Linked DNA regions of Homo sapiens: region 1 is linked to region 2. The links come from fine-mapping of genetic effects on gene expression. Tissue or cell type: whole blood. Region 2 holds a variant in brackets; the other region holds the start of a gene. All regions are shown on one strand. Distances are between the middles of the regions.

Region 1 (2,611 bases), 710 kb before region 2:
GCTACCACACCTGGCTAATTTTTCGTATTTTTGTAGAGATGGGTTTTGCCATGGGACCTGGACAAGTGAAAACTTTTCTGAGCCTCTAGTTTCTCTCTGTTTCTCTTTTTTATGTGAAGCATTTTCTCATCTGTAACTTGGGCCTAACATATAAAGGACTTGGCATCACACCTAACTATAAGGAAGTAGTCAACAAACTGGCCTGGCACAGTGGCTCACGCCTGTAATCCCATCACTTTGGGAGGCCGAGGTGGGCGGGTCACCTGCGGTCAGGAGTTCAAGACCAGCCTGGCTAACATGGTGAAATCCCATCTGTACTAAAAATACAAAGATTAGTAGTCCCAGCTACTTGGGAGGCTGCGGCAGGAGAATGGCATGAACCTGGGAGGCAGAGGTTGCAGTGAGCCAAGATCGCGCCACTGCACTCCAGCCTGGGCGACAGAGTGAGGCTCCATCTCAAACAACAACAACAACAATTATCCGGGTGTGGTGGCACACGTCTGTAATCCCAGGTACTGGGGAGGCTGAGGCAGAAGAATTGCTTGAACCCAGAAGGCTAAGGATGCAGTGAGCCGAGATCCCGCCACTGCACGCAAGTCTAAAAAGAAATAGTCAAAAAACAGTAAAGATACTGTTATTACAGGCGGGGAAAGGGAGGCTGAGAGGGGAAAGGACTTTGCCGACAAGCTGAGTACAGGGCTGAGGGCCCGGCCTCACACCCTCGGTGAGGGGGGACCTTGTGCAATGGAAGGAAGGAGCACTTCCTCCCTCTTCGGAGCTGCAGCGACTGATTTCCTTCAGGCCCAGGAGGGCAGATGCCCTTTAGCCTCCTGCCGCTCCCATCACTGACCCCTCCCCACCTCTGCGTCTGGAGGGCAGGGGTGCCTGGACACTCCAGGCAGGCGACAGGTGACAGGTGATCACGCCCCCTCAACGCCGCCGGGGCCCACAAGGCCCCGCTCCCTATGAGTTCAGTCCTGCCCCAGTGATGACCCCGGCCTCACGGTCCCGCGCCCCCCACTCAGCCTCCGACCCTAACAATCCGCACCCCTTCTTCAGTACCCACCTCCGCGGTCCGCGCCCCCTCCTCGGGCCCCGCCCCCAATGCTCCGCGCCCCCTCCCCGGGCCTGCCAGCACTCAAATATCCGGGACGGCGGTGGCACGTACCCCCGGGCCCACGTTATGGGAGAAGGAATGCACGACGCCGCCGGGCCGCACGTCAAACGCCACCGTCGTGGGCTCGGACACCGCCTCCGCCGGCCTCAGCGCCACGGCCCCTAGGAGCAGCGCGGCCCACAAGCTCGCGCCGACGCCGTTCCACCCTCCGCTGGGCGCCGCCATGTTGGACTAGGGTCCTCAGGGCAGGGGCGGGTAGACGGGGCGCGGCGAGGGACACGTGGAGCGTCCGCCGGAGGCCACGTCGGCGTCGGCTGTCCACGTGACCCGGCACGCCCCGCCCTGTCCACCGCCCGGGGCCACCATCTTGGGGGCGGGACTTTGTCGAGGGGGCGGGACTTTTGCCGAGGGGGCGGGGCCGCCGAGGGGGCGGGGCCGCCGAGGGGGCGGCCTCGTACCCTAGGGACCCTGCGTAGCCCGGCGATCCTTGGAGGGTCCCTCAGGTGGTAATGGAGTTCGTTTTGGGGTCTCAGGGTCCCTCACCAGCCGTGTGACTGACTGCAGCTCTTTCAGTTAGGAGATGTACAGGGAGTGAGGGAAATCGAAGGTCACCATTAGGCGAACTTCTCATAATCGTTGCAGCCAAGATGTGTGTGCATCGATATTCAAAATTAGCAGAGGGAAAGTAGGATGAGAAGCAGGATGCTTGCTTTTGTTTCCCTCTTGTTGCCCAGGCTGGAGGGCAGTGGCGCGATCTCGGCTCACTGCACTCTCCGCCTCCCAGGTTCAAGTGATGCACCTGCCTCAGCCTCCCGAGTAGCTGGGACTACAGGTGTTCACCACCACCCCTGGCTAATTTTTGTATTTTTAGTAGAGACAGGTTTTCACCATGTTGGCCAGGCTGGTCTTGAGCTCCTGACCCCAAGTGATCCGCCTGCCTCGGCCTTCCAAAGTGCTGGGATTACAGGTGTGAGTCATCACGCTCGATCAGTCTGTGTATTTGTTAATAGGATTATGTGGGTGTTCACTTCCTGGCTTTGATAACCTGGCTTGTCCTAGGGGTTACAGACGATGTTCACATTAGGGGGAGTTGGATGAAGCGTATTAGGAAACCCTACAGTTTCTGCAGATTTTCTGGGAGGCAAAAATTATTTCAAAATAAAAAGTTAAAAAGAAAATAATCCCTACCTCAAGGAGTTGTTGGGAGGAGTAAGTGAGGGAATTAAGTTCCCACACCGGGACGAATGAACTGAGAATTATATATTGTAGCTATTGCTATCATTAGATCCCAGGTTTTCAACTAGAGAAGGAAGTCATTCTTTGGTTACAAATGGCTTAACATTTCAAGAAAACACCAGTGGCCAGGCCTGGGGGGTCAATAATTAAGCTGGTGTTTCTAGTCCTTCCCAACTGGCAAAAAACAGAATCCAGAGAGAAAACGTCATAGATGACTCCTAAGATGGGTTATAATTCACCCTTTGAGGAATTAAATCA
Region 2 (2,757 bases):
TGCCCGGCTAATTTTTTGCATTTTTAGTAGAAATAGGGTTTCACCATGTTAGCCAGGATGGTCTCAATCTCCTGACCTCGTGATATGCCTGCCTCGGCCTCCCAAAGTGCTGGGATTACAGGCGTGAGCCACCACGCCCAGCTCGGGCCTGGCTAATTTTTTATAGGGACAAGGTCTTACTATGTTGCCCAGGCTGATCTCGAACTCCTGGGCCCAAGCAATCCTCCCACCTCGGCCTCCCAAAATGTTGGGATGTCAGGCAAGAGTCACTGCACCTGGGCAGAATCACCAGTTCTTTGATGCCCATGTCTGCACTCCTACTCTCTCTGTCCTCATTTGTTCATTTATTCACTCAACAACCGTTGTGTGCATGGCCCCGTTCTAGACACTGAAGACTCAGCAGAGATCAAGAGAGACAATATTTCCTGTACTTCTGGAACTCATGGAAGCTGGAGAGAGACAGAATTTGCAAGTAAGCAAAATAAATCGATCATTTCATTGTTGTTGTTGTTGTTGAGATGGAATCTCACTCTGTCGCCCAGGCTAGAGGGCAGTGGCGCAGTCTTGGTTCACTGCAACCTCCACCTTCCAGGTTCAAGCGATTCTCCTGCCTCAGCCTCCTGAGTAGCTGGGACTACAGGCGTGCACAACTACGCCCAGCTAATTTTTGTGTTTTTAGTAGAGATGGGGTTTCACCACATTGGCCAGGCTGGTCTTGAACTCCTGATCTCAAGTGATTCGCCCACCTTGGCCTCCCAAAGTACTGGGATTACAGGCATGAGCCACTGCACCCCGCCAAAAATGATCATTTCAGACAGTGATAACTGATGAACAGAAGTGAAACTGGGTGAGGTGGAAAAAAGTGATAGGTTGGAGGGATGCAGTTTTAGCTGGGGTGGTCCGGGAGGGCCTGTCTGAGGAGGTGACATTTGAGATGAGACCTGAATGATCAGAAGGAGCCAGCTGTGAGAACATGTGGAGGAAGGGTGTTCCAAGTAGAGGGAACAGTCTGTGCAAAGGCCCTGAGGCAGGACAGTGCCTGGGGCATTGGAGGAACAGTGAAGAGGCCTGTGTGGCTGGAGCAGAGTGAGGAAGGGGAGAGAGGGAGAAGGGGAGGGCAGGGAAGGGGCAGGAGGACAGGTCATGCAGGGCCTTGTGGGTTGCAAAAAGGACTTGGGGCCGGGCACGGTGGTTCACGCCTGTAATTCTAGTACCTTGGGAGGCCAAGGTGGGTGGATCTCTTGAGATCAGGAGTTCAAGATCAGCCTGACCAACATGGTGAAACTCTGTCTCTACTAAAAATACAAAAATGAGCCAGGTGTGGTGGCAGGCACCTATAGTCCCAGCTACTCCTGAGGCTGAGGCAGGAGAATCGCTTGAACCCAGGAGGCG[G/C]AGGTTGCAGTGAGCCGAGACTGTACCACTGCACTCCAGCCTGGGTGACAGAGCGAGACTCCATGTCAAAAAAAAAAAAAAAGGGACTTGGGCTTTGACCCTGAGGAAGGTGGGAACCATGGGGGGCTGCGGGCAGAGGAGGGACAGGCCCTGACTCAGGTGCTCACAGGCACCCTCTGGTGGCTGCAATGGGGAGGACAGACTGCGGCAGGTAAGGGTAGGAGCCGGGGAATCAGGACTGAGGCAACTGCACGAGTCCAGGTGGGCAGTGATGGGGGCTGGACCTGGTGGAGACCACAGAAGGAGGAAGAGGATGAGGTTATACACATTCCACCTCACCTCCCTCCACCATGAGTGGCTCACCTGCAGGGCAGTGGCATGTCCCCAGCACCACCAGCACCACAAGCTCATGAATCCCCAGAGTCACTGCAGCTGCAAAACTCTTAGCTAGGAGTGCCCTCAGAGGCCCAGAGATGTCCAGTGTCACCCGCAGGTCGCCCGATGAACTGGATGCAGAGCCAGAACTTGTGCCCTTGGTGCCACCTCCCCTCTGGCTCAGCTGTGCTCTGCCATCTCTTCCAGGGACAAAGATTAGGAGTTTGTTTACTGATACTATTTTTATTGATCTTTTTTTAAAACAAGTGCTCAGCAAAAAAGATGCACTTAGCCAAACTGCTCCTATGATATCTGTGGGAATTCCTCTAAGCTGTCCCAGGCGTGGGGACTATTGGGTGGCAAAAGCACAGAACTTGATCTCTTCAGATTTCTTTTTAATTTATTATTATTATTATTATTATTATTATTTTTGAGACGGAGTTTTGCTCTTGTTGCCCAGGCTGGAGTGCGGTGGTGCCATCTCAGCTCACTGCAACCTCCAGCTCCTGGGTTCAAGCGATTCTCCTGCCTCAGCCTCCCGAGTAGCTGGGGTTACAGGAGCCCATCACCACTCCCAGGTAATTTTTTGTATTTTTAGTAGTGATGGGGTTTCATCATGTTGGCCAGACTGGTCTCTAACTCCTGACCTCAGGTGATCCACCCGCCTCGGCCTCCCAAAGTGCTGGGATTATAGGCGTGAACCACTGTGCGTGGCCCAGGTATTTTTTAAATTTTATTTTAAGTTCCAGGATATATGTGCAGGTTTGTTACATAGGTAAATGTGTGCCATGGTGGTTTGCTGCACCTATCAACCCATCATCTAGGTATTAAGCCCTGCATGCATTAACTATTTATCCTGATGCTCTCCCTCCCCCGATTCCCCCAACAGGCCTCAGGGTGTGTTGCTCCCCTCCCTGTGTCCATGTGTTCTCATTTTTCAGCTTCCACTTATAAGTGAGAACATGCAGTGTTTGGTTTTCTGTTCCGGTG

What was found. PIP is the estimated chance that this variant, and not a neighbour inherited with it, causes the effect.
Region 1: it holds the start of MYDGF, and the variant in region 2 is fine-mapped to the expression of MYDGF in whole blood (TOPMed, PIP above 0.99).

The regions. Positions count from the first base shown.
Region 1 is chr19:4,668,993-4,671,603 of GRCh38, forward strand. MYDGF (myeloid derived growth factor) reads right to left here and starts at 1,350. Exons shown (of 6, transcript NM_019107.4): 1 at 1,169-1,350. The coding sequence starts at 1,342. RefSeq lists a silencer at 1,350-1,739.
Region 2 is chr19:5,376,097-5,378,853 of GRCh38, forward strand. No RefSeq gene overlaps it. Among named protein-coding and RNA genes, the nearest start is that of PTPRS, 37 kb to the left of the region's middle. The variant G/C (reference allele first, on the strand shown) is at 1,393.